7 linked regions of the Homo sapiens genome follow. The protein of the gene in region 1 purifies or fractionates together with the protein of each later gene. This does not show direct contact. Each region holds a gene or a part of one and is shown in the gene's direction. Other genes may lie near its edges. The genes, in order: PCDHB3, TNFRSF10A, ADGRF1, DNAJC11, TMTC2, ESYT2 and CLCN3.

What was found.
Region 2: the proteins of PCDHB3 (region 1) and TNFRSF10A purify together in Homo sapiens (affinity purification with mass spectrometry; one large-scale study listed by BioGRID and IntAct). This does not show direct contact.
Region 3: the proteins of PCDHB3 (region 1) and ADGRF1 purify together in Homo sapiens (affinity purification with mass spectrometry; one large-scale study listed by BioGRID and IntAct). This does not show direct contact.
Region 4: the proteins of PCDHB3 (region 1) and DNAJC11 purify together in Homo sapiens (affinity purification with mass spectrometry; one large-scale study listed by BioGRID and IntAct). This does not show direct contact.
Region 5: the proteins of PCDHB3 (region 1) and TMTC2 purify together in Homo sapiens (affinity purification with mass spectrometry; one large-scale study listed by BioGRID and IntAct). This does not show direct contact.
Region 6: the proteins of PCDHB3 (region 1) and ESYT2 purify together in Homo sapiens (affinity purification with mass spectrometry; one large-scale study listed by BioGRID and IntAct). This does not show direct contact.
Region 7: the proteins of PCDHB3 (region 1) and CLCN3 purify together in Homo sapiens (affinity purification with mass spectrometry; one large-scale study listed by BioGRID and IntAct). This does not show direct contact.

What each region holds. Positions count from the first base shown.
Region 1 is NC_000005.10:141,099,003-141,103,272, forward strand, and holds the start of PCDHB3 (protocadherin beta-3 precursor), read left to right. Parts: upstream 1-1,470; 5' UTR 1,471-1,647; coding exon 1,648-4,038; 3' UTR 4,039-4,270. UniProt on the Homo sapiens protein: Potential calcium-dependent cell-adhesion protein. May be involved in the establishment and maintenance of specific neuronal connections in the brain.
Region 2 is NC_000008.11:23,189,952-23,194,102, reverse strand, and holds the end of TNFRSF10A (tumor necrosis factor receptor superfamily member 10A), read left to right. Parts: intron 1-2,089; coding exon 2,090-2,409; 3' UTR 2,410-3,651; downstream 3,652-4,151. UniProt on the Homo sapiens protein: Receptor for the cytotoxic ligand TNFSF10/TRAIL. The adapter molecule FADD recruits caspase-8 to the activated receptor.
Region 3 is NC_000006.12:47,014,833-47,018,332, reverse strand, and holds part of ADGRF1 (adhesion G-protein coupled receptor F1 isoform 1 precursor), read left to right. Parts: intron 1-1,564; coding exon 1,565-1,716; intron 1,717-3,488; coding exon 3,489-3,500. UniProt on the Homo sapiens protein: Adhesion G-protein coupled receptor (aGPCR) for N-docosahexaenoylethanolamine (synaptamide), an omega-3 fatty acid lipid highly enriched in the brain.
Region 4 is NC_000001.11:6,642,817-6,646,316, reverse strand, and holds part of DNAJC11 (dnaJ homolog subfamily C member 11), read left to right. Parts: intron 1-338; coding exon 339-528; intron 529-1,190; coding exon 1,191-1,276; intron 1,277-1,642; coding exon 1,643-1,759; intron 1,760-3,500.
Region 5 is NC_000012.12:82,850,906-82,854,405, forward strand, and holds part of TMTC2 (protein O-mannosyl-transferase TMTC2 isoform 1 precursor), read left to right. Parts: intron 1-3,500. UniProt on the Homo sapiens protein: Transfers mannosyl residues to the hydroxyl group of serine or threonine residues.
Region 6 is NC_000007.14:158,735,510-158,739,009, reverse strand, and holds part of ESYT2 (extended synaptotagmin-2), read left to right. Parts: intron 1-1,830; coding exon 1,831-1,962; intron 1,963-3,401; coding exon 3,402-3,500. UniProt on the Homo sapiens protein: Tethers the endoplasmic reticulum to the cell membrane and promotes the formation of appositions between the endoplasmic reticulum and the cell membrane. Binds glycerophospholipids in a barrel-like domain and may play a role in cellular lipid transport.
Region 7 is NC_000004.12:169,619,362-169,623,377, forward strand, and holds the start of CLCN3 (H(+)/Cl(-) exchange transporter 3), read left to right. Parts: upstream 1-1,216; 5' UTR 1,217-1,702; intron 1,703-4,016.

The sequences.
Region 1 (4,270 bases):
ATTCTTAATGTTACTCAGTCTATCTTTATATTTTTATATCATTTTTACATACATTTGAATGAGCTATCCTATTAAAATTTTAATATTAACTTTGAAGGTCTTGTTTTGAGATTAGCAATGGTGTAGAGCGCTGTGTTGGTATCAAAAGTCTCTGATCAACCAACTCATTACCTGTAGGATTTTGGATGAGTCACAAAGTTTCTTTTCTTCTACCCAAATGATAGCAGGTATTTGAATAGCTTGCAGTTATACTCAATATAAAGACATAAAAGTGAAATTGCTGTTATTTTTAGTATCACTAGTATTAAGAGCAAACATTCTTGATAATTGTGTAGAAGTACAAAAGCGGCTACATTGAACACATATTTGCACTGTTTTATTTCTGTACCAACAACCTTGCAATGGCTTCCTTTTGTTCTTAGAATAATAAAATCCAAGCGCCCATTATTTGGCCTTGGTTTACCTTTTCAGCCTTCCTTTCCACTTACTCTTGAGACATTAAGTTTTGTATTCACTGTACTTCATTCATTATCTATTAATAGCTATGCTTTGCTCTCTCAGGGCCTTCACACATTCTACAGTCTTAGCCTGGCACACTTCTCCTATTTCATGTTTCAGATTAAATGGTGCACCTTGGGGGAAACTTTCTTAATCACTCTCCATTAAGTTAGGTCCCCGTATTGCATACTTTCAGTGCACTCAGTACCTTTTCTATGTAGCACTTTTCACACTGTTTAAACATCTGTTTAAAGACTGTACACCCACTAGATGGAAAATTGTTGTAAGATATACAGACATTGTCTTGTTACCACCACTTGCCTAACTTCTACAAACTCAACAATTATCTGTGGAAATAAACTAATACAGATGAAATGAATAATTGTAAATTTGCTCTGAAATAAGAAGAGAAAGCACTTTAAGTGTTCCTTGAGCATGATAATCTGGAAGAAATTAGGTATTTGTAGTCCTCTGGATCCACCTCTGACATGATATATTTTCTTTTTTACCACCTTGCAGGAGGTGTCTTTTCCTTGTGTTTTTCTGGTATATGCAATTCGGGCTCATTTCACAAAGTTTAGGAAAAAAAGAAAAACATAAATAGGATAGTGAAGCATGCTATCATCTAGAGCAAAAATCTTTTGAAGTTTGTGTGTAATTATTACAAAAGGGGAGGGGTAAACTAGTATGTGTACACTTCCGTTAAATCGTGTAAATGAGGACTCTACCAGGAAGAATCGCTGCTCGTAGATAAAAGTGCATTTTATTTCCCTAGATTGCATTTATTTAATTCATATAACATGAGAAACTCCTCCAGTAGCGTCAACTAGGGTTGATAAGAATAATCGATAAAGCAAAATAAAAACACCTTCTCCAAGATTTTGTAACTGCAAGCGAACGCATGGTGGCGCTGTTGACTAAGAAGGCGAATTAAACCACAGGCATTGTGCATGCTCGGTGACGCACGGATCCAGTGTGGTAAACCAGCGGTTGAGAGCCCAGGCAGATTTTTGAGCCAGCAAGTCTGAGCCTCTGGAAAGGCTTATTCACTAGGCCGTCTACAAAGGTTGTGGGGCAAAAGACTGTTTCCCAGCTCTGTCTGAGGTTCAGCTTGGCGACATTCCCTGGAAGAGCGTGACGGAAAGTGCAATGGAGGCGGGAGGAGAGCGATTTCTTAGACAAAGGCAAGTCTTGCTTCTCTTTGTTTTTCTGGGAGGGTCTCTGGCTGGGTCCGAGTCAAGACGCTATTCTGTGGCTGAGGAAAAAGAGAAGGGCTTTTTAATAGCCAACCTAGCAAAGGATCTGGGACTAAGGGTAGAGGAACTGGCCGCGAGGGGGGCCCAAGTTGTGTCCAAAGGGAACAAACAGCATTTTCAGCTCAGTCATCAGACAGGTGATTTGCTCCTGAATGAGAAATTGGACCGGGAGGAGCTATGCGGCCCCACAGAACCATGCATACTACATTTTCAGATATTACTGCAAAACCCTTTGCAATTCGTTACAAACGAGCTCCGTATCATAGATGTAAATGACCATTCTCCGGTATTCTTTGAAAATGAAATGCATCTGAAAATCCTAGAAAGCACTCTGCCAGGAACAGTAATTCCTTTGGGAAATGCTGAGGACTTGGATGTGGGAAGAAACAGCCTCCAAAACTACACTATCACTCCGAATTCCCACTTCCACGTACTCACTCGCAGTCGTAGGGACGGAAGGAAGTACCCGGAACTAGTACTGGATAAAGCGCTCGATCCGGAGGAGCAGCCGGAACTCAGCTTAACGCTCACCGCGCTGGACGGCGGCTCTCCCCCTCGGTCTGGGACAGCCCAGATAAACATCCAGGTCTTAGATATAAACGACAATGCACCAGAATTTGCACAGCCGCTCTATGAGGTTGCAGTTCTAGAGAATACCCCCGTTAACTCTGTCATTGTCACTGTCTCGGCTTCTGACTTAGATACAGGAAGTTTTGGGACAATATCATATGCATTTTTTCATGCTTCTGAAGAAATTCGCAAAACTTTTCAGCTAAATCCAATTACTGGTGATATGCAACTGGTCAAATATTTGAATTTTGAAGCGATTAATAGTTATGAAGTCGACATCGAGGCCAAGGATGGCGGAGGCCTATCCGGAAAGTCTACAGTCATAGTCCAGGTGGTTGATGTCAACGACAACCCACCGGAACTGACCTTGTCTTCAGTAAACAGCCCTATTCCTGAGAACTCGGGAGAGACTGTACTGGCTGTTTTCAGTGTTTCTGATCTAGACTCTGGAGACAACGGAAGAGTGATGTGTTCCATTGAGAACAATCTCCCCTTCTTCCTGAAACCATCTGTAGAGAATTTTTACACCCTAGTGTCAGAAGGCGCGCTGGACAGAGAGACCAGATCCGAGTACAACATTACCATCACTATCACTGACCTGGGGACACCCAGGCTGAAAACCAAGTACAACATAACCGTGCTGGTCTCCGACGTCAATGACAACGCCCCCGCCTTCACCCAAATCTCCTACACCCTGTTCGTCCGCGAGAACAACAGCCCCGCCCTGCACATCGGCAGTGTCAGCGCCACAGACAGAGACTCAGGCACCAACGCCCAGGTAACCTACTCGCTGCTGCCGCCCCAGGACCCGCACCTGCCCCTCTCTTCCCTGGTCTCCATCAACGCGGACAACGGCCACCTGTTTGCCCTCAGGTCGCTGGACTACGAGGCCCTGCAGGCGTTCGAGTTCCGCGTGGGCGCCACAGACCGTGGCTCCCCGGCTTTGAGCAGCGAGGCGCTGGTGCGCGTGCTGGTGCTGGACGCCAACGACAACTCGCCCTTCGTGCTGTACCCGCTGCAGAACGGCTCCGCGCCCTGCACCGAGCTGGTGCCCCGGGCGGCTGAGCCGGGCTACCTGGTGACCAAGGTGGTGGCGGTGGACGGCGACTCGGGCCAGAACGCCTGGCTGTCGTACCAGCTGCTCAAGGCCACGGAGCCCGGGCTGTTCGGCGTGTGGGCGCACAATGGCGAAGTGCGCACCGCCAGGCTGCTGAGCGAGCGCGACGCGGCCAAGCACAGGCTGGTGGTGCTGGTCAAGGACAATGGCGAGCCTCCGCGCTCGGCCACCGCCACGCTGCATGTGCTCCTGGTGGACGGCTTCTCCCAGCCCTACCTGCCTCTCCCGGAGGCGGCACCGGCCCAGGCCCAGGCCGACTTGCTCACCGTCTACCTGGTGGTGGCATTGGCCTCGGTGTCTTCGCTCTTCCTCTTTTCGGTGCTCCTGTTCGTGGCGGTGCGGCTGTGCAGGAGGAGCAGGGCGGCCTCGGTGGGTCGCTGCTCGGTGCCCGAGGGCCCCTTTCCAGGGCAGATGGTGGACGTGAGCGGCACCGGGACCCTGTCCCAGAGCTACCAGTACGAGGTGTGTCTGACTGGAGGCTCCGGGACAAATGAGTTCAAGTTCCTGAAGCCAATTATCCCCAACTTCGTTGCTCAGGGTGCAGAGAGGGTTAGCGAGGCAAATCCCAGTTTCAGGAAGAGCTTTGAATTCAGTTAAGTGTTAATAAGGATCTACTGAGCCTCGTCTTAGTTAATCTGTGGAAAGTCCTTTTTTACTGCTTTGTCCATTGGAGAGGTCTTTTTTGGTCTGGTTCAAGGCAAGTAGCAAGAATAGAGCAAAATATCAAATCCAGGGATGGCTTAGGTTTCATTAACAGTACTGGAAAGTAGTTGTGTGGCTCTGAATGTTTTGTATTTCAATCGAGAATCCTTAGTCGATAGAACATTTT
Region 2 (4,151 bases), on another chromosome or scaffold:
GTTAGCTCCAATAGATAATTCAGTGAAGGTTGTGAACCCAAATTTTAGGTAAAGCAGTTTCCATGGCAGTTTGATTTTTAAAGGCCAAACCTCTGCAGACTCCAAACAGCATCGCAGAGAACACCACCTAGAACCAACTAATCAGGCCCAATGCTGCTTAGAACAGCAACATAAAAGCCTGGATACAGGAACTCCATCCTACTTTCTCATTCAGCAGCAAACTTCAGTTTCCAAGCAATATTGGAGCCAAACAGTATTACAAAAGAATACCAAGTTTACTGAATTCCAATTTCCCATGACTCTAGCAAACACATAGAAATAATCACCAAAACATAATACAACTGCTGCAGCAACAAACAAGCTCCAAGAGTGTCCAGACTGAAACAGGCAGGGTGCTTCCTCTCTCCATTGGTTAGGTTTGATCAACCTGCCAACAAAAATTGCTTTCAAATTTCTCAAATTGAGAGGAGCCAGTCGTGCTGCCTGGTACCCACAAAAGACACTCACTTGCCCTGAAACAACACACAATTACAAACAAGCCTCCAAGAGTGTCCAGACTGAAAGGCAGAGTGCTTCCCTCTCACAGTCACTTGGGCCTGTTCAACCTGCAAATGGAAATTCCTTTAAAAATTTCTCAAACTGAGAAGAGCAGATCCTGCTGTCTGGGCCCACAAAGGACAATCACCTGTCTGGATGCAAATGTCAAATTTCAAAGGCAGTTCTTCGGAAGTAATCAGGAATGTGGTTGGGGCCGGCTGCAGTGGGACCTGAGAGAGACTGAAACTCACCTCCAGCCAAAGTTAGCGGGGCAACTGCTTGGGAGGGCTTCTGAGTCTCCTGGCCCATGGCAGCAGAGCCATGAGCAACACTTTCCCAGCCAGGGAACCAAAACCTGTTACCAAAACCTCAGGGGTTTGGTCTAGGTCCCGCTGCTCGCTGCACAGAAAGCCAGTCACTGAGATGATGAGTATTGCCAAGAAGGCTTTAATAGGGTGCTGCAGTGGAAGAGATGGGAGCTCAGTCTCAACTGTATCTCCCTGACCAACTAAAACTAAGGGTTTATATAGGAGGCAAGAAATGTAACAATGTGTAAGAAAGTAGGAGCTAGAATGGGGCAAGGAAACAATCAAGATGAATGAGGGGTCCCACATCCCATCATGGTCTGGATGTAGTGATCTGGTGAGTTTCAGTTCTTTGCTACTTTTTTTGAGATGCTTGCAGGTCTTTCCTGAGGAAGTAACTCAGATAAAACAAATGTTAAGTTTCCAGTCGTTAAGGACCAGAAGGGTCAATTTCTGTTTATCAAAAAAACCTTTCTATGGGACAATTGGGTCAGTTTCAGTTTTTGTATACTCATTGCATATTAAATTATATTTTACACATATTCAGTACCACACATTAAAATGAATGTCACTTTTTTCTTTTTATGTTCTTTAAATGAGGCTGTTAGAAAACATAGCTTGGTACTCCTGGCCCCTTCTATCCCTGTGGATGGTGGTGTGCAGTGCTTTGCACACACATCTCATTTCATTCAATCCCTGGTAGTCCTGAGATCTGGGCAGGTTTGCTCTGTCTTCAGGTTTGCTTCTTGGTCAGGGCCTGCTTGCCCCCACCTAGCTCTGCCCCAGCCTCAGGGAGGGCAGAGGTCCCCTGCCCCAGACCCTGCACTTTCCACAGATGCAGAAGTGGCCACCCTGGGACATGCTCCCATGACAAGCGCAGCCCAGGCAGCCCGCATCCTCTGAGCTCCCGCTGCAGCCACTCTCCCTCCCTCCCTCGGGCTCTCACCCACTTTGCTTTCTGCCTCCGTAGGGTCAATCCATCCTCCCCAGGTGGGTTCTCAGCCCTCTCTGAGGGCAGATTCTCTGGTGACCTTGACGCCCGTCAGCGCCTTGGGGGCCACAGAGGCCAGGCAGTGTGGGTGGGCTCTCTGTGGATGGGAGGTGGGTGGGCAATGGAGCAACAGGTTTGCCCATGCAGGGGGCTCTCCAGGTTCTCTCCTTGGGTTCTGGGCCTGATGTGGGATCCTCTGCCCCTTCTGAACTGAGTCCCAACTCATCTGGCTGTCTCTGTGGCTTTCTCCACCCAGCTCTGATGCTGTTCTTTGACAAGTTTGCAAACATCGTGCCCTTTGACTCCTGGGACCAGCTCATGAGGCAGCTGGACCTCACGAAAAATGAGATCGATGTGGTCAGAGCTGGTACAGCAGGCCCAGGGGATGCCTTGTATGCAATGCTGATGAAATGGGTCAACAAAACTGGACGGAACGCCTCGATCCACACCCTGCTGGATGCCTTGGAGAGGATGGAAGAGAGACATGCAAGAGAGAAGATTCAGGACCTCTTGGTGGACTCTGGAAAGTTCATCTACTTAGAAGATGGCACAGGCTCTGCCGTGTCCTTGGAGTGAAAGACTCTTTTTACCAGAGGTTTCCTCTTAGGTGTTAGGAGTTAATACATATTAGGTTTTTTTTTTTTTTAACATGTATACAAAGTAAATTCTTAGCCAGGTGTAGTGGCTCATGCCTGTAATCCCAGCACTTTGGGAGGCTGAGGCGGGTGGATCACTTGAGGTCAGAAGTTCAAGACCAGCCTGACCAACATCGTGAAATGCCGTCTTTACAAAAAAATACAAAAATTAACTGGATGTGATGGTGTGTGCATATATTCTCGGCTACTCGGGAGGCTGAGGCAGGAGAATCACTTGAACCCACGAGGCAGTGAGCTGAGATTGCACCACTGCACTCCAGCCTGGGACACAGAGCAAGACTCTGTCTCAAGATAAAATAAAATAAACTTGAAAGAATTATTGCCCGACTGAGGCTCACATGCCAAAGGAAAATCTGGTTCTCCCCTGAGCTGGCCTCCGTGTGTTTCCTTATCATGGTGGTCAATTGGAGGTGTTAATTTGAATGGATTAAGGAACACCTAGAACACTGGTAAGGCATTATTTCTGGGACATTATTTCTGGGCATGTCTTCGAGGGTGTTTCCAGAGGGGATTGGCATGCGATCGGGTGGACTGAGTGGAAAAGACCTACCCTTAATTTGGGGGGGCACCGTCCGACAGACTGGGGAGCAAGATAGAAGAAAACAAAAAAAAAAGGAAAAGCAAATCCATCTGATCTCCTGGAGCTGGGACACTCTTCTGCCTGTGGACATCAGAGTCTAGGATTTCTAGCCCTTGGACTCCAGGGCATACACCAGTGGCCTCCCGAAGGATCTAAGGATTTTGGCCTTGAACTAAGAATTACACCATCGGCTTCCCTGGGTCTTAGGTTTTTGGGCTGGATTAAGTCCTGCTTCCAGCATTTCAGGGTCTCTGCTGTGCAGATGGCCTGTTGTGGAACTTCTCAACCTCCATTATCAGATGCATTAATTCCTCCAATAAGTCCCATTTCATATATAGTCATTTACCCCACAACATTTCAGTCAAGGGAACAGCATATAAGATGGTGGCCGTCCAGTAAGCTAAGGTTAATTTATTAATTATTTAATTTATTTACCTTGAGTTCAAGTCACAATTAAAGTACATATACCTTTGGAAATTTGGACTTTTGTATATAAAAGTACTTTTTTTTGGCGGGGGCAGTGGGCAGCTCTCATCCTAAACAAATGTGTTATTTGGTACCTATGCAAAGATTTGGTTAAAAGAAAGAAAAGAATTGCTTCCATAAATGGAGCATTTTCTTAGAAAAACTGGAGCCCATCTAAATGTTTTTCAAGGTCACGTGATCTGAGATAATCTTTAGTAAATAGAAAGCTAGTTTAAGTTTCTTGGTTTAATTAAAACAGACAATTCTTAAGAGTTGTCAACATTATTTACAGTTCACACATACAACTTCTACCTGGATTTACTAATCAAAACACTTACGTGTGGCCGGGCATGGTGGCTCACGCCTGTAATCCCAGCACTTTGGGAGGCCGAGGTGGGTGGATCACAGGGTCAGGAGATCAAGACCATCCTGGTTAACACGGTGAAACCCCGTCTCTACTAAAAATACAAAAAATTAGCCGGGCGTGGTGGTGGGTGCCTGTAGTCCCAGCTACTCGGGAGGCCGAGGCAGCAGAATGGCGTGAACCTGGGAGGCTGAGCTTGCAGTGAGCCGAGATCGTGCCACTGCACTCCAGCCTGGGTGACAGAGCGAGACTC
Region 3 (3,500 bases), on another chromosome or scaffold:
TTCTCTTATCTATAAAATGGGAATGATACACTGCTTATCTCATGAGTTATTGCAGGATTGACTTAATGTATTGATCTCATGTGCTTTCATGTCTTCAAACACATCTGTATGCTGATGGATTCTAAATTTATTACTTGAGCTCGGGCACTCCCCTGAACTCCAGACTCAAATAACCAACGGCCTACTTGACAGTCTCCACTTGGTTTTCCAGCTGGGATGTCAAATGTCATGTGTCCAAACTGGGAATCCTCTGACTCTCCCCTTCCTAACCTATAACTTATTTTTCCCACTGTCTTCCCTATTTCCATTACAGCAATGCTGTCCTTCCACTTGCAGAGACCCAATCCTGGAGCCATCCTGTGCTATAATTTCTTTTATTGAGGTATAACTTGCACACAGTTATGTGCTCAAACTTTGTGTATGACTCTATCAGCTTTGAAAAACGCTTGTGCAAGTCCCTTCCTGTCAAGATGGAACATTCCCATAACCCCAAAAGTTCTCTTGTGTTGCTTTCCAGCCTCTTTCCATGCCATCCCCTCACGCCAGAAGCAACCACTTGTATGATTTTTATCATCACAGGTTAGTTTAGTCTATTCCAGAACTTCACATAAATAGAATAATCCAGTTTTTTTTTTTTTTTGCATGTTCGGCGTCTTTCACTCAGCATAATGTCATTGAGATTCATCCTCATTTTTCTATCAGTGGTTCCTTCCTTTTTGTAGTCCAGTAGTACTCCATGGTAAGAATATACAAAAACTTGCTTTTCCATTCCTTGGAGTTATTATTGACTGATTTCTTTCTTTCACATCCCAAATCTTCTCCATTAGTAAGTTCTATGGCTCTGGCTCCAAATAAAACCTGAATTTGACCACATGCATAGCTACCCAGCTAGTTCAAGCCACCACCAGCTCTTTCCTAACTGAGTTCCCTGTACCTTGCTTGCTTCCCTTCCATCTGTTTTCTACACAGCAGCCTTTACGGTCTTAAAAAGATAAATCTTATGATGCCACTACCTTTTAATAAAGAAGAAAACTTTTTAATAAAGAATGAAATCGCAACTCTAATGTCCTATGAGATCTGACTCCTGGTACCACTCCAATATCATCTCCTGCTATTGCTCCCTTGCTGCTGAATTTCAATCATCCTAGTATTTAAGCTTGTCAAACTCACAGGCATTTTCCCGCCTTAGGACCTTTACTTGTGCTGACATTCCACACCAGTGTTCTTTGCATAGCTGGCCTTTTCTTCTTTGCATAGCTGGCCTCAGGCCTCAGCTTCAAAGACCCACAGCACAAAAAAGCCTTCCATAACCAGCTTTATTTAATGTGGGGCCCCATAATTATATCTGTATATATACAGATGTATTTATACATATATATATATCATATATATATGTATTTTTGGTGGATACTTGTTTTTTTATTTGCCTTGCCTTATCCACTAGAATGTAAGCTCTGTTTACTTTATTCCTATGGACCCCATGGCATGTACACACAGCATAGGCCGGGAGTGAATGAATAAATAAGTAGTGAATCTCATTTCTCTTTCCCCATAATCACTGCAGAAATGGAAGCATCGTTGCTGGGTATGAAGTTGTTGGCTCCAGCAGTGCATCTGAACTGCTGTCAGCCATTGAACATGTTGCCGAGAAGGCTAAGACAGCCCTTCACAAGCTGTTTCCATTAGAAGACGGCTCTTTCAGAGTGTTCGGAAAAGGTAATGCTGGATTCCCATCCTCTGCTTAGGTTAAGAGAGTCCTTTAATTAGTAGTTCATTTGTGTCCTCAGGAAGTAGATTTGAGACGTTTGAATAACGAATTGTTCTCTAACTGCCTTTCAGCACAAACAGGCAGCTGTTTCCCCCAGCACCAAGATGAAACTTAGCTTCAACTGACTATTTCAAATTCTTGCTAATTGGAAATCTGATCTGTACCTCTTAGTGTAAACAGTGTGGAGAACTGACTTCACTGCAGGCTGTGATGGAAAGGGCTCAGCAATAGTTGACTGGCACACATGTTGAAAGAGCCCTGAGGCTGACAATATTCCTAAGTCACAATCCAAGAAATTATGTCTTTAACACATATAAAGACAGACAGACAGACACGCACACACACACACAAACTGTTTTTCTTCAGATATTTATCTTTTTCTTTTACATTCAATCTTACGCCTTTCCTACCAAAATTTGTACCACTCTCTTTCAACAACATTTATTCTATAAATATTTACTGAGAATCCAAAGTGTCTAGACACTTAAAATGCAGCAATGGTGAAAACAAACAAAAATCTTAGCTCTGGCTGGGTGCAGTGGCTCACGTCTATAATCCTAGCACTTTGGGAGGCCAGAGTGGGCAGATGACTTTAGGTCAAGAGTTCAAGATCAGCTTGGCCAACGTGGTGAAACCCCGACTCTACTAAAAATACAAAAATTAGCCAGGCCCAGTGCAGTGGCTAAAGCCTGTAATCCCAAAACTTTGGGAGGCCAAAGAGGGCAGATTGCCTGAGATCAGAAGTTTGAGACCAGCCTGGCCAACATGGTGAAATCCCGCCTCTACTAAAAATACAAAAAAAAAAAAAAATTAGCCAGGCGTGGTGGCACACACCTGTAATCCCAGCTACTCGAGAGGCCAAGGCAGGGGAATCACTTGAACCCAGGAGGTGGAGGTTGCAGTGAGCCGAGATCACTCCACTTAACTCCAGCCTGGGTGACAGAGCGAGACTCTGTTACAAAAATAAATAAATAAATAAATAAATAAATAGCCAGGCATCGTGGTGTGCACCTGTACTCCCAGGTACTAGGGAGGCTGAGGCAGGTGAATCACTTGAGCCTGGGAGGTAGAGGTTGCAGTGAGCAAAGATTGCACCACTGCACTCCAGCCTGGGCAACAAGAGTGCAACCCCATCTGAAAAAAAAAAAATCATAGCCCTTGTGGATCTTCCAGTTAATGTTTCCATCTCCTAGTTCCAATCATGATAAGAATGCATTATTAAAGGCTAGCAGCAAAAGTAGCAACTGGTTGCAATGTGAGCTATGCTTAAAGAGGTACAGGTAGGAAGTGCTACCCACAAATAGCAACTGCCCATCTTTTAACCATAACATTACTGCTTTATTCTATAGTGTCTGGAAAATTGTCTGGCTTTCTAATGTTCCTTTAAAGAGTAAAAATATTTCCTGAGAGTAATCACATCTTTCCTTATTATCACCTAATACTTACTAGTTGATAGCCCATTAAAAGTGATATTGTTGGCACAGATCGGACACCTGGAAGGAGGAGTCAGCCTCAGGGAGGGTAAGGCATCAGGAATGAGTAAGGAATGTTGAGAGGGATGAAGCAGGACATCAAAGACAAACTTCTCTTACTTCTGAATTTTGCCTGGATTTCATCTCCAAAAATGAGTTCTAAAACATTTGAACATGACTACATGGTTTATATAGAGTGCCAGGATATTCTAGGATCATTTTTCTTTGTTGTTTTCTTTTGTTTCCAGCCCAGTGTAATG
Region 4 (3,500 bases), on another chromosome or scaffold:
TTGGTGATTCTGACTTGCACTCCTCGGCCCCCATCCATTCTAACTTGAGTGGGGTTGCATCTGCTGGCATAGGAATGCAGACAGTCAGGTGCCTATTTGGTTGTAGCTAAAGTTAGGGCGGCTGAGGGGAGTCGGGAGGTTACTAGGAAGATTCTGGCTAGGACCCTCCCCCTCTGTGTGGATAGAGGCCTGACCTCCTGCTTTTTTTTTTACTGGGAGCTGGCCCAGGGATGCATAGACGTGACAGTAAGTGAGGTCTTAGCCAGGCAGAGAGGAAGTAACAGAACAGCTGAGAGCAGGTGCTATCCAGGACCTATTCTGTCTCTGTGTCTCTCCAGCTTTGTGACAACAAACTGTGCTCTGCAGTTTTCATCCCGTGGAATCCGACCCGGCCTGACCACTGTCCTAGCTCGGAACCTAGACAAGAACACCGTGGGCTACCTGCAGTGGCGATGGGGTATCCAGTCAGCCATGAACACTAGCATCGTCCGAGACACTAAAACCAGCCACTTCACTGTGGCCCTGCAGGTGAGCCGAGCAGCCATCATCTCCTGCAGACAGAGCTCTGGGAGGACCCCTCCTCCCAAGCACTCAGTGCTCCCCTTAAATCCTGCGTCCTGATCACCACTAAGTCTAAGCCCATACAGGGCCCTGAGGGGCAGGCTCTCGGTGCTCACACTCGAGTGACCTGGTGGAACCTTCGAGTATGAAATGCAGTTGCCTTCAGGCGCCTGGGGCAGCTTTGTTGGATCATCTTAAAGCAGAACAACATCTTAATGTCTGGTGGGAGCCACCCACGGAATTGGGGGCGGGCAGATGAAGCCCCATAGCAGAATCATGCCCTCGGACGCCCCTGTGGCCACACCAGGGCTGGTACATGAGAAGCCCCACACGGGCCACTGCTCCTTGGCTCTCACCAGCCGCTGCCACCTAGGAGCATAGGCTCAGTGTCACCAGAGTTTTTTATTTCTTGTGAGAAGCTAGAAAACTGGGTTTTCAGTGAAGTCTCCCACTTTTTAATTACTGGCTGCTAATAAATCATGGTGCACTCACTGCGGCTGCCAGACCGTGACCCCTGCCTTAAAGGCCTGTGTGCAGCAGATGCCCAGAGCTAGTGGGAGGGCAGATACCCATCTCCCCACAGAGTCACACGCCCTAGCCACGCATCCTTGCACCCTCTGTCTCCCCAGCTGGGAATCCCTCACTCCTTTGCACTGATCAGCTATCAGCACAAATTCCAAGATGACGATCAGACTCGTGTGAAAGGATCCCTCAAGTAAGTCCTGGCCTGGCTAAAATGGAAGCACACTGGTACTGCATGCGGGTCTTCACAGTGGAACCAGTTGGTGTAAGACACCTTGCTCGTGTGAATATCTACGTGTGTGTGACATTTTTGGAGAGCTTCCTATTTTGAGGCTGTGGGGGATTTAACACTACAGTCCCAGCCCTTGAGGAGCTTAGAGAGTGTTGTGGAAGAACTAGACCATGGGTGTCCCAACTTTCTTCTGTCATGAATCTGCTCCCTGGGGGTCGAGGAGGCTGGAGGGAGGGAAGGGAAGGTACCTGGCCTCTTCTCAAATGACAGCTGCCCCTGAAGTGATGAATGAGGGGCACAGGCACAGACCGCGTTCTCTCCCTGCAGAGCAGGCTTCTTTGGGACGGTGGTGGAGTACGGAGCTGAGAGGAAGATCTCCAGGCACAGCGTTTTGGGTGCAGCTGTCAGCGTTGGAGTTCCACAGGGTGTTTCTCTCAAAGTCAAGTAAGTTGAACTTAGGCCTTTCGGGTCAAGGAATGCCTGTCACCTTCACTCAACCAGGCTTTACCCAAGTTAAGGCTGAAATAGCCTTTGCATTGTAATTTTGTTCTTAAAGACACAGTTGCTTGGCTAGGTGCAGTGGCTTATGCCTGTAATCCCAGCACTTTAGGAGGCCAAGGCGGCCGGATCGCCTGAGGTCAGGAGTTTGAGACCAGCCTGGCCAACGTGGTGAAACCCCATCTCTACTGAAAATACAAAAATTAGCCAGACGTGGTGGCACACGCCTATAATCCCAGCTATTTGGGAGGCCGAGGCAGGAGAATTGCTTGAACCCGAAGGCGGAGGTTGCAGTGAGCTGAGATGGAGATCGTGCCACTGCACTCCAGCCTGGAGGACAGTGAGACTCCGTCTCAAAAAATATAAAAAAAAAAATTCAGCCAGGTGCCGTGGATCACGAGGTCAGGAGATCGAGACCATCCTGGCTAACATGGTGAAACCCCATCTCTACTAAAAATACAAAAAATTAGCCAGGGGTGGTGGCGGGTGCCTGTAGTCCCAGGTACTCGGGAGGCTGAGGCAGGAGAATCGCTTGAACCCAGGAGGCGGAGCTTGCAGTGAGCCAGGATCGCTCCATTGCACTCCAGCCCGGGTGACAGAGTGAGACTCCATCTCAAAAAAAAAATACAGTTGCTTGTGTCTTTGCTGAGTAAGCAAATGTCAAGCAGTGCATAGTTCCAACACCGAGTGAGTGAGGTGTACGTCTGAGCTCCAGCAGCCTCGCCTGATGTCACAGGATGCATCCTAGCAGCCCAGTCCTCCTGGAGTCACTGGCCTGGCAGCTATCCCCCGGGCACAGCATCTCCAGTAGCAGCTGCCATATCGGTTCATCCCTCTCACCAGGGGTTTCCATTGGCACACATACCCTTGCTCCACCTGAGTCTAGTCACTGTCCTCTCCTTAGTTCCTCAAAAGAGTTGTCTGGTTTTGGCCGGGCACTGTGGCTCACACCTGTAATCCCAGCACTTTGGGAGGCCAAGGCGGGCAGATCACGAGGTCAGGAGATTGAGACCATCCTGGCTAACACGGTGAAACCCCGTCTCTACTAAAAATACAAAAAATTAACCGGGCGTGGTGGCGGGCGCCTGTAGTCTCTGCTACTTGGGAGGCTGAGGCAGGAGAATGGTGTGAACCCGGGAGGCAGAGCTTGCAGTGAGTCGAGATGGCGCCACTGCACTCCAGCCTGGGCATCAGAGCGAGACTCCACTCAAAAAAAAAAAAAAAAATGTCTGTTTTCGCTTGCATCCGTCTTCTTTCTTTCTAAACGTGCTCCAGTCAGGCCTCTCCAGCAAAACCAGCCCTCTCCAGAATCAGCCTTTCTCACCTCATCAGTGGGGCACCCTCCCTCCTGTGGCAGATCAGAGGGTGATTCTTCTTCATCTCATTTGGTCTCTGCACCTGCTGTCGCGGTGGCCGTTCCCTCCTGCCCTTACAGCCTCTCTGCCCTGAGTTTCCAGGATACCACGCCCTGCTCTGGCTTTCCGTACCAGATGGCTGCTGTCTCCCAAACCCCTAAATGGAGGCACCACTGCAGGGCACAGCCCTTCTCTCTCGACTCACTCCCAAGCAGTCATGTCCAGCCTCATGGCTCTCATGCCCTGAGGACTCACGTTGCAAGTGCCAGCTTGGACCACCCCCTCAATCTCCAGCTCATATATTTGTCCAGCTTTCTCTTCCTAATCTCTAC
Region 5 (3,500 bases), on another chromosome or scaffold:
ATACAAAAATTAGCTGGGCGTGGTGGCGTGCTCCTGTAGTCCCAGCTACTCAGGAGGTTGAGGCAGGAGAATCACTTGAACCCGGGAGGCAGAGGTTGCAGTGAGCTGAAATTGCACCTCTGCACTCCAGCCTGAGTGACAGAGCGAGACTCCATCTCAAAAAAAAGAAAACAACATTGTGTTTGCATTGATGGCTAGCATCAGTTGTTTGGTGTTGATGATGATAATAATAGCTAACATGTAACCAGGTGCTGTGACTCACGCCTGTAATCCCAGCACTTTGGGAGGCCGAGGCAGGCAGATCACCTGAGGTCAGGAGTTCGAGACCAGTCTGGCCAACATGGTGAAACCCCATCTCTACTAAAAATACAAAAATTAGCCAGGTGTGGTGGTGGGCACCTGTAATCCCAGCTACTGGGGAGGCTGAGGCAGGAGAATCGCTTGAACCCAGAAGGTGGAGGGATCATGCCACTGCACTCCAGCCTGGGCGACAGAGTGAGACTCTGTCTCCAAAACAACAACAAAAAATTGCTAACATATGTTACCTATGTTACATACTCACATTATATTGCATGTAATCATTTACTCTTCACAATGATCCTATAAGGCAAGTATAGTGCTCTCTAGTTTACAGTTGAGGAAACTAAGGTACAGAGAGGTGAAATAACTGTGTCTGCTGTCTCACAACTTTAGTGTATCCAGTTGGCTACACAATGGATTTTCTTAACTGCTGCATTGCACTGGGCAGCACTGAAGCAGGGCAGGTTAACAAAGGCCAGTCTTTTTTCTTATCTTTCTTGCAAAGAACATTTCAACCTACTGTTATTTATTTATTTTTTTTAATTTAAGTTTGGCCTTTGCTTACTTTCAAGTAGAACAATTGAAAGCATGTCAGAACAGCGCCATTTGATGTTGGAAGAATCTAAGCGTCATTCCTGCTCTGAAGGACTACTGGTCATTACTTACATGGGTGCTTATGACTGAAAAGGTCACGAGACAAAAAAAAAAAAGCTGTGAGAGAAAGACACACAAGGACAGTTTGGGTGGCAGTGTCACATCATTCATCAGTTTTACAATAGTGTTGGCCTTTGTCAACATTTTCTAAAGGAAAAATCATAAGGCAACAAAAACAAAGAGCCACAAATGAACAAACCTGGACACAGGCTAAGACTTCCTTGAAGACTTCAGAAACTATCTTTTTTTTTTTTTTTTTGGAGATGGAGTCTCGCTCTGTCGCCCAGGCTGGAGTGCAGTGGTGGGATCTCAGCTCAGTGCAAGCTCCGCCTCCCGGGTTCACACCATTCTCCTGCCTCAGCCTCCCGAGTAGCTGGAACTACAAGCGCCCGCCACCACGCCCGGCTAATTTTGTGTGTGTGTGTTTTTAGTAGAGACAGGGTTTTACTGTGTTAGCCAGGATGGTCTCGATCTCCTGACCTCGTGATCCATCGTCCTCGGCCTCCCAAAGTGCTGTGATTACAGGCGTGAGCCACCGCGCCCGGCCAGAGACTATCTTTTTGCTTCAAAAAGACAGTTTCTCAGTCCTGTGTTCTCTAGGGAATTCTGCCAACAATTGTTTTTTTCCCATATCTGCTGCTCTGAGTTCCTCCACCTTTCCTAGAGTGGAAAATATCCTGATTCCTTAGTGCCTTTCTGAATTTTCAACACCATTTCACGGAAGCAACCTCAAAAATTATATCAGCATGAAATTTTGTTTTGAGTCAAGGTGTTTCATTAGCTGTGAAACAGCAGAAGAGGTTTTACTATTTCTATTTTGGACTCATAGAAGGAAATGCAAATGAATCAAAATCTATTATGCTTAGGTTTGAATGACTCCCTTTTTCTTATTTTGCTGGAGGATTACTCAGATTCTATTAAGGCCCTGTTGGTCTGTATCTTTCTTAATAGGATGTTGAGGTGGTGTAATGCATCCCTTATCACTGACCTGCATGTGTGACATGACTTGTATATTAAATTCCAGTACATTTTAGTCTTCCATATTTTTTATCATAATATTCATTGGTTAAATAAAATCCTACTTAAGCAGATAACACACATTGGAGAATTTTATCATACTAATGTCTCCCTTAGTATAGTATGTTTTTCACATGGATGAGATACTCTTTTGCTCCTTCATTTTTGTTTTATTAACTATGTTTGTCTTTTTTTCCATGTAAATTTAGGGCTGTGTTTCAAAGTTTTTTTTCTTTTTTTTTTTGAGACGGAGTCTCACTCTATTGCCAAGGCAGGAGTGCAGTGGCGCGATCTCGGCTCACTGCAACCTCCACCTCGAGGGTTCAAGCAATTCTCCTGCCTCAGGCTCTTGAATAGCTGGGATTATAGGTGCCTGCCACCATGCCTGCCTAATTTTTGTATTTTTAGTAGAGATGGGGTTTCACCATGTTGGTCAGGCTGGTCTCAAACTCCTGACCACAGGTGATCCACTTGCGTCAGACTTCCAAAGTGCTGGGATTACAGGCATGAGCCACCATGCCCGGCCTCAAAGGTTTTTTTCTCACGGTAAAATTATGAGATGTGTTAATTGTGTTCTTTGTGTTGAAACCCTTTTTGGTGGAGGGTCTTTGGATGTAGTATATCTCGTGGCTGCTGTAGGCTGCTAGATTTATTGCTATAAAGATAAATTCCAGCAGCTTTGAACAGATTTTTTAATGGGTGAATTTTTTATCAAAAGCCTTTACATAGTTGGTCATGGCATTGAACTAATAGCATGTAGAAATCCAGGTTTGGAAAAGATGATTCTTCATTCTTTGGGATCTGCCACAGAAAGGATGGAGTATTACTCTAAACAAAGCGTGCCTCACAGTTTTTCTCACTGCCTTGACAAAGCCTTATCCCAGAATGGTTTGCCTTTGAGCTCTCCACTGCCCTGGCCTTGATGGTATGAGGGTTTCTGGATTGATATTAGAGATATTTACATCAATATCTAGGTTAATGTCTAGTTGAAGCCTGGGTTTCATTCTCTATTGCTTGAAATAAGCTCTTTCTGGCAACACTCTTTGGCAGTTTGGCAGTTGTTTTTTTTTTTCATATTTCTTTTAAATTTTAATTATAACCCATCAAGTCTTAAGCAATTACTTCTGGGTAGACTCTTGATGAATGTCATAGCAGGGTGTTTTAATTTAATAGATCCAGAATAACATCTGGTTCTAATATTTTAAAAGCCAATTTATATGGAAATTTATTTAATACACAGTCAATACATGGAGACTTGTAAAAATCAAAATCAAAATGGAAAATCAATCTACTGTTCTGTAATAGGTCTTCTTTTAATAAAGGATTTTGCTCATGACTGGGTTCAACTGTTACTAGTTAACACTCAAAATATCAGTTTAGAAAAGGTAGCAACTTATTTCTCATACTGAAGAAATAGGAGGTAGTTAGCCCAGGGTCACTATGGTCTTTTGTAACAGGGACTGAGTTTCCCTCAATCTTACTGCTCTGCTCTCTGCATGATTTCTATTCCTAAGGACACCTTGTGGGCC
Region 6 (3,500 bases), on another chromosome or scaffold:
TCCCACGCGCCCGCTGCTGTGCTGCTGAGTGTGGATGCTGGATAGGATGATGTAGACACCGCCTTTAGGATTTCCAAACATCCATTTATGTTTCATTTAGAAAGGACAAAGCAATTAAACCTCTAGAGACGGTGCTCGTAAAGGGTGTCACCACTGCGTATGTCACATGACAACGTTTTGGTCACCGAAGTACAACGGTCCCCTAAGATCATACTGTATTTTTACTGTACCTTTTATGTGTTTAAATACACAAATATGGCTTGGCATGGTGGCTCACGCCTGTAATCCCAGCACTTTGGGAGGCTGAGGTGGGCAGATCACCTGAGGTCTGGAGTTCGAGACCAGCCTGACCAAAATGGAGAAACCCTGTCTCTACTAAAAATACAAACTAGCCACGTGTGGTGGTGCATGCCTGTAATCCCAGCTACTAGGGAGGCTGATGCAGGAGAATCACTTGAACCCAGGAGGCAGAGGTTGCTGTGAGCCAAGATCGTGCCATTGCACTCCAGCCTGGGCAACAAGAGCGAAACTTTGTCTCAAAAAGAAAAAAAAATACACAAATATGTCACAATTGCCTACAGTATTCAGCACAGTAGCATACTGTACAAATGTGTAGCCTAGAGCAGGAAGAGTGTGTGTGTGTGTGTGTGTGTGTGTGTGTGTGTCTGTGTGTGTGTGTGTATTTTTTTTTTTTTTTGGAGACAGAGTTTTACTTTGTCCCCCAGGCTGGAGTGCAGTGGCACAATCTCATCTTACTGCAACTTCCGCTTCTTGGGTTCAAGCAATTCTCCTGCCTCAGCCACCCGAGTAGGTGGGATTACAGGCGTGCACTACCTCGTCCGACTAACTTGTATTTTTAGTAGACACGGGGTTTCACCATGTTGGCCAGGCCTCCTGAGTAGCTGGGACTATAGGTGGAAGCCACCAGGCCTGGCTAATTTTTAATTTTTTTATGGAGACGCTGGTCTCTAATTCCTGGCCTCCCAAAGCACTGGGATTATAGACTTGAGCCACCATGACTGGCCTAATCAGGAAGAATTTATTTTAACTTGTTTGTTATATTAATAAGTATAAAGTCAGGTGACTGTTGCATTAATTGCATTTGTTAACAATGATACTGTGGGCTTACGAACTATTTTCCTTTTATGCAATTTTCTCTGTCCTATTAGTGGTTTAAAATATGATATAAAAATTTGGTGCTTATAAATAGCTGTTGGAAACATAGGAAAATAAAATTAGCACCATTTAGAAAGATGATAAAAATGTAGAGTTCAGTACATCACTCTTGAGAAGTTCATATATTCTTGCCACTTAGATAATGATCGTGGGGGATACTGTTGTAGAGGAGTCTAGCAAAACAATCCCTCCTAGACTTTGTGGTCAGTCAGCAAGCGAAGAATGTGGGGGCCTGTGCAGCTGGGCACCTGACCGCGTTTGCTGCAAAGGAGCAGCCCCCTTCTGGAGGGGTAGGCACTGTGGGGTGGGGGCCTGGCTTTCTTGGCTGTGAGAGAGAAAATGGCAGAAGCATTATGGAAAGACAACCGTCACTCTGTTACAAGCAGAGACCAAGGACTTGGAACGTCCTCCAAACTCTGGGCTTGAGAAATGAAGGCCGAAGTCGCTGCTGAGAAAGCCACTAAGAAAGGAGTTTGGGAGATGCCACCAGGCAGCCGTCGGGGGAGGCAAAAGCGCCTCACGCATTCTGTTCCTTGTTGCTTCTCGGTTTGTAGATAAACATGAAATCAAAGCTTGATAAAGCATATCTGAATGTGCTGCTCATTCTCTTTTTCTCGGTCCTAATACCTCGTCTTATCTGGTTTGTGTTGTAAGAAACCTCATTGCCTTCTCTGAAGACGGCTCTGACCCCTATGTCCGCATGTATTTATTACCAGACAAGAGGCGGTCAGGAAGGAGGAAAACACACGTGTCAAAGAAAACATTAAATCCAGTGTTTGATCAAAGGTACGGTATTTTATCCAGCTGAGGATAGACTGCCCGGTTGAAGTGACGGATTAAGAAGGCCCTAAATGGTGCCTTTGAGTGGCCAAAGCACATAAATCAGCTGTTGAGAAGTTCAATCAGAAACCAACTTTTAGCAAACATACTTCTCAAAACAAATAAGCATTTTGACCTTCATGTAGAAGCTCTAAATACAGTAAATTCAAGTTACAACCCTGTGGACATGTAGACTAGTGATTAAATAAAGATCAGGTTACTGATGGCCCTGAAGAACTCATTTTTGGGGGTTATATCTGTTGACACTTAACTATGTTATCAATTAAAACTGAGAATTTAAGGATACATATATTTTTAATTTTATTTTTAAATAACAGTAAGCCCCAAACATCTTACCGTATGACATATTGGAAAAACAACTGTATTTCCAAAAATAAAAAACATAATGAAAAGAATGGTATTATTGTTCAGCATTTTTGCTCATCTCTTTAGTGGTCTGGCTCAAGAGGGGCTGGAGCCTGCTTCTGTGGTCAGGGTGATTTGGTGACCTCCTAGGAGGGTCTCAGAGACACCCCCAGGGGTCATTGGCCCCCACTTTTAAAGAGCTGCTAATCTGTACCATTTTGGTATCTTAGGTGATTGTCCCCTAGTGCTTCAAAACCCACCCTTGTTTTGGGAAATGATAATAATACAGTTGTATGGTGTCGCTATCTGCTAATTCAGTTTACGTTTCATCTTTAAACATCCTCCTCATTCATTGTACTTTCATACAAGTAGCTTTATGTAAAACACCCATCAGAAACTGGCAGGCGTGCATCAGCCCGATGAGGTTGTGCAGGGTGCTCCTACCCATCCGAGGCATTTAAGCGTCTGGAGACTCCACTTGCCCCCCAGCACGGTGGCCTGGGGCAGGCACCCGCAGCCCGGAGGAGAGACGCCCTGCAGGCACTTTAGTGCAGCGTCTGGCTGAGCATCGGGAGTGCTTTGGAGGCCTTCTCCCTCCTGCGAAGCTGCAAGCACATACTTTTTTTTATTGGAGATGGTGGGAATAGGGCCTGAAGACTAAACCAGACTGAGTGGAAAGCCTGAGTGAGTGGGCTGCTCTGGAATTGCTGTTTTGTCAACATTATCCCACATTTTAATCCCCTGGAAGAGTCAGACATGTTGAGAGACGCTCCTCACCCACCCGTGAGTGAGCCAGGGACCTTGGGACCCAGACATCTATGGGATGCCAGAGCCTTCTTTTATGTGTGGGAAATGAAAAAAATGTTGGTTTTTGAGTCTTCCTGAAATGCCAGATTAAAACATTAGGTAGAAGAACTCAGTTTTATAATAAAAAACAAACATGACATTTGGAATGATCTCATGAGCAGAAATGCCATTTTTAGTTATAAGAAAATACAGCAGAATGATGGATAAAGTAAGGCTCTCGTTTCCTATTTCAGCTTTGATTTCAGTGTTTCGTTACCAGAAGTGCAGAGGAGAACGCTCGACGTTGCCGTGAAGAACAGTGGCGGCTTCCTGTCCAAAGACAAAGGGCTCCT
Region 7 (4,016 bases), on another chromosome or scaffold:
GCCCAGAACTGTCTTTGAGAATATTCAATGCTGCCCTAGAAGAAATAGGAGAACAAAACTCACGTGTTCCTAGCCTGCAAAACAGTCGGTGGAGCACGTATATGTAAAAATAGAAAAGGCTGGCAAGACCAGGTCATATTTAATATTCATGAGGCACAAGATATACAACACGCACTTAATATTCATTAATCAGTATATATTCATAATATACTAAATATACAGGAGATATTAAACGTTCACGGGTCTTAATTCTGCCACCCAGTGGAGACACTCAAAAGTGATCTCGCCAAAGAAATGCAAAACCTGTACCTGCCCACCAGGCTATTAGCATGCTACTGCTGTGGCCACCATTCTTTCACTGCATCGCCCTGCCCTGCATCGGAATATAGCACCTTGAACACGGGATCAGGTTTACTGAATTCTGTGACCCACGCTGGGAGCTCAATAAATGTTTGCTAAACGGAAATGAACCCAATTCAGACCGTGTAGAAACCCCAGATTATATCTTTTCTCCAAACATTCAATTTCCAAGCAGTATTTTTGAAAATGCGTGATGGCTAAATTCGAGTTATCCTTTTTGTATGTATGTTAGGCACACAACCGGCGATGACATACAAGGCGAGGTGACACCACTGCACTCCCAGCCCGCACGTCACCTATAAGCACAGGGGGCTTTTGGTGCTGGTTTATTTTTGAAGGCTGGTACTTCTCTTCGATCTAAGTTTTAGGAACCTGTGCTCGTCGACGGCTGCCAATACTTTTTATTTTCAAGGCTGACGCTCGCCAGAGTTTCACAAGCTGCTCCCGGACGCTGTGGTCTCTCGCTAGAGTGGATCCGAACTCTGCGTGACGCTGGGAACGGCCAGCGTCTGTTGCCTCACGAAAACATCTCCCACAAGGTGGCCGCCTCGCGCGAGGTCAGCAGCAGGGCAAACAGGGATGCGTGAGTGACTGACGTGAGCTAATCGCTAATGACAGGCTTCACAGCCCCGGCGGCCCTCAGAGCCAGGCACCTCGCACCCCTCCTCCTCCTCGAGACCCAGTCCCGGCCCGCCCACCGTTCCCACGCCGCCCAATAGGCGCCGACGCTACTCAGCGAGTGGCCGGAGGAGGAGGTGTTGGGACGGCCGGACGCTGAACGGCCGTTCACGTCAACGTAGTGACGTCACGCGTCGACGCTGGGGCGTACCTTTCGGGCTCCTGACTCCTGCCGCTTCTCTTCCCCTTCCGTGGGTCAGGGCCGGTCCGGTCCGGAACCTGCAGCCCCTTTCCCAGTGTTCTAGTTCGCCCGTGACCCGGAATAATGAGCAAGGAGGGTGTGGTGGGTTGAAAGCCATCCTACTTTACTCCCGAGTTAGAGCATGGATTCAGTTTTAGTCTTAAGGGGGAAGTGAGATTGGAGATTTTTATTTTTAATTTTGGGCAGAAGCAGGTTGACTCTAGGGATCTCCAGAGCGAGAGGATTTAACTTCATGTTGCTCCCGTGTTTGAAGGAGGACAATAAAAGTCCCACCGGGCAAAATTTTCGTAACCTCTGCGGTAGAAAACGTCAGGTATCTTTTAAATCGCGATAGTTTTCGCTGTGTCAGGCTTTCTTCGGTGGAGCTCCGAGGGTAGCTAGGTTCTAGGTTTGAAACAGATGCAGAATCCAAAGGCAGCGCAAAAAACAGCCACCGATTTTGCTATGTCTCTGAGCTGCGAGGTGAGTTGCATTGTATGAGCGAAGAGTTGTCAGCTCTCCTGTTCACAGATTTTGGGTCAACTGTGAGGCCACAGCGCTCATCTTGGTTTCTCTTACAATGTACCTACATAATGTTGAAAGGTACATCGTGAATTGGGATGCTAACCCATCCTGATTAGGTATATACCCTCAGACATTCTTTAAAATTTCACACATCTGCTTCAGGAACCGTCGAAGGACCTCTGAATAAAATGGAAGTGGGTTCCAGGAGAAGATTAACTTTAAACTTAGAGGAGTGGGTTTTACTTTCGCTAAATTTTCCCCAATTTAAAAATAATATTCAGTTTTTCTATCTTTAGATATATATGTATGTAAAATATTTTTTGTGTATATATATTTGTGGTTTGATCTTAAACTTGACCAGAAACTGCCTTAGAATCTCAGAAATTGACTTTGCATGTGGTATGCTTTGTTTGTATGGCATTTTAAAACTGCGGAGCATATAGAAGATAATTACATATGCATTGTGCATATTAGAAACTGAGATTTCTGTTTCCTTTAGAAAGAAATTCCTGTTCATGGAATTGAATCAACAGCGACCATACCTTTTACACAGATATATAATTCAAAAGTTCAGTTCTACAAACGTAAACTTTTGGAGCTATGCAGTTCAGTTACTGCAGCATCATTGTGGCTTGTATAATTGTTGAATCTTTCCAGAAATGCTTTTACTTTCATCTTTAAAGAGTTAATTTAGAAGATTTTTTTTTATGAGGTCGGTATGGAAATAACTGCGTCCCTTTGTGAGTCACTACAAAATAATATTTGTTCAGTTCAGGAGTACATATGGGAGTTAAAGTGCTTGTGTATAAATTGTTGACTTTCATCTTAAAAGGTGCTGCTGCTATTCAGTGTCTTGTTCTATAATATGGCTTTAAAAACCATGTGTGTGACCTACAGATATTTTCTCAACTTGAATATGCGTATATGGCCTCTGGTTAATACAGACAGCCACTGTTGGCAGAATTCATCACAGATTGCATACCCTTCCCACCCCTTACTCCCCTCAGCACCTCGAAAACTTTGCTGCTTTACTTGAATGATGAGTCACATTATTTTAAGAAGTCAATATGAATGTATAGTACCTACATTTTTACTTGGAAATTGTACTTCAGTATGTGTTATCAGTCATACATAGCTCATTAAGAATGTAAATATTTAAACTACTTTTGGATAGATGTGGTTCAGGGGAACAGATTTGTTGATGTTGTGGGTTTGTGTTAGTAAATTGGCTATTTTCCAGGTCATGTTAGTGGTAGGCTTTCCATTTCCTGTTGTGACATGTTGGTCATAATTTTCAGACGGCTCAGGAAGCCAGATTTGATCTCTGTGGTGGGTCTTATATCAAAGCAGTATCCTGTGGGGTTTGGCCACTATCGCTGTTTTGTAGAACTTCCAACTTAGTTTGGTAGTCAAACTTGTCAGCAGTGATCTAAAATGTATAATATTTTATAATAAGTGTTAATATTTGTTGAATGCATTCTGTGTTTTCAGGCTCTTTTCCAAGTAATTTTTGTGAATTATCTCAATTTTCACACTAACCCCACGAAGTAGGTACTTTCACTAATCCCGTTTTACATTCGTAGAAACTGAGGCACAGAAAATTTAACTAACTTGCCCTACAGTAACTGTCAGAACTGAGACTGAAGCCTGGGAGTATGATTTCAGAGTTCCTGCTCTCTGCTGCACCATAGTGTAGTTTAGAATAGTCAAAATGCTAGAGAAAAACAAGGAGGGACGTGGCTTGTAGGTTCAATTATAAAAGCAATGTAAAATTACAGAGAGTCTGGGAAACAGTGTTTTTAAAAGGAATACTCATAATCTTACTACTCTAATAAACATTTTAATTTTTTAAATATGCACATTCACATCTGTACATAAACATTGTAGCTGTGATTCATTTTGGTTCTTAAAGATAAATCTTCAGTGAAGTTTAATATGGAGATTGAACCCCACTGCCTCACTTTCATTGTTGAAATCCAGAGAGATTTGATCTGCAACTTTGACTGGAACCAAGTTAAATAAATATATTTCTTGCTATTTCTTGTGAGAAATAATCGAACAGTTTCTGTCTTTTAAAATCATGAAGACTATTTAGTTTTCAAAGTTTCTGTCTTCCACAGCAACTTTTTATTGGTTTATTGTTTTATCTTTCTTCCTTGTTATAATCTGAGTGTTATATTTGTATGTGTGTTTATTCCGTTGTCCTCTTGAAAGCCTCTAGCATTTATACCCGCTGCCCCTGAGGAATTTGGGTTTTTTTGTCTGTTTTTAT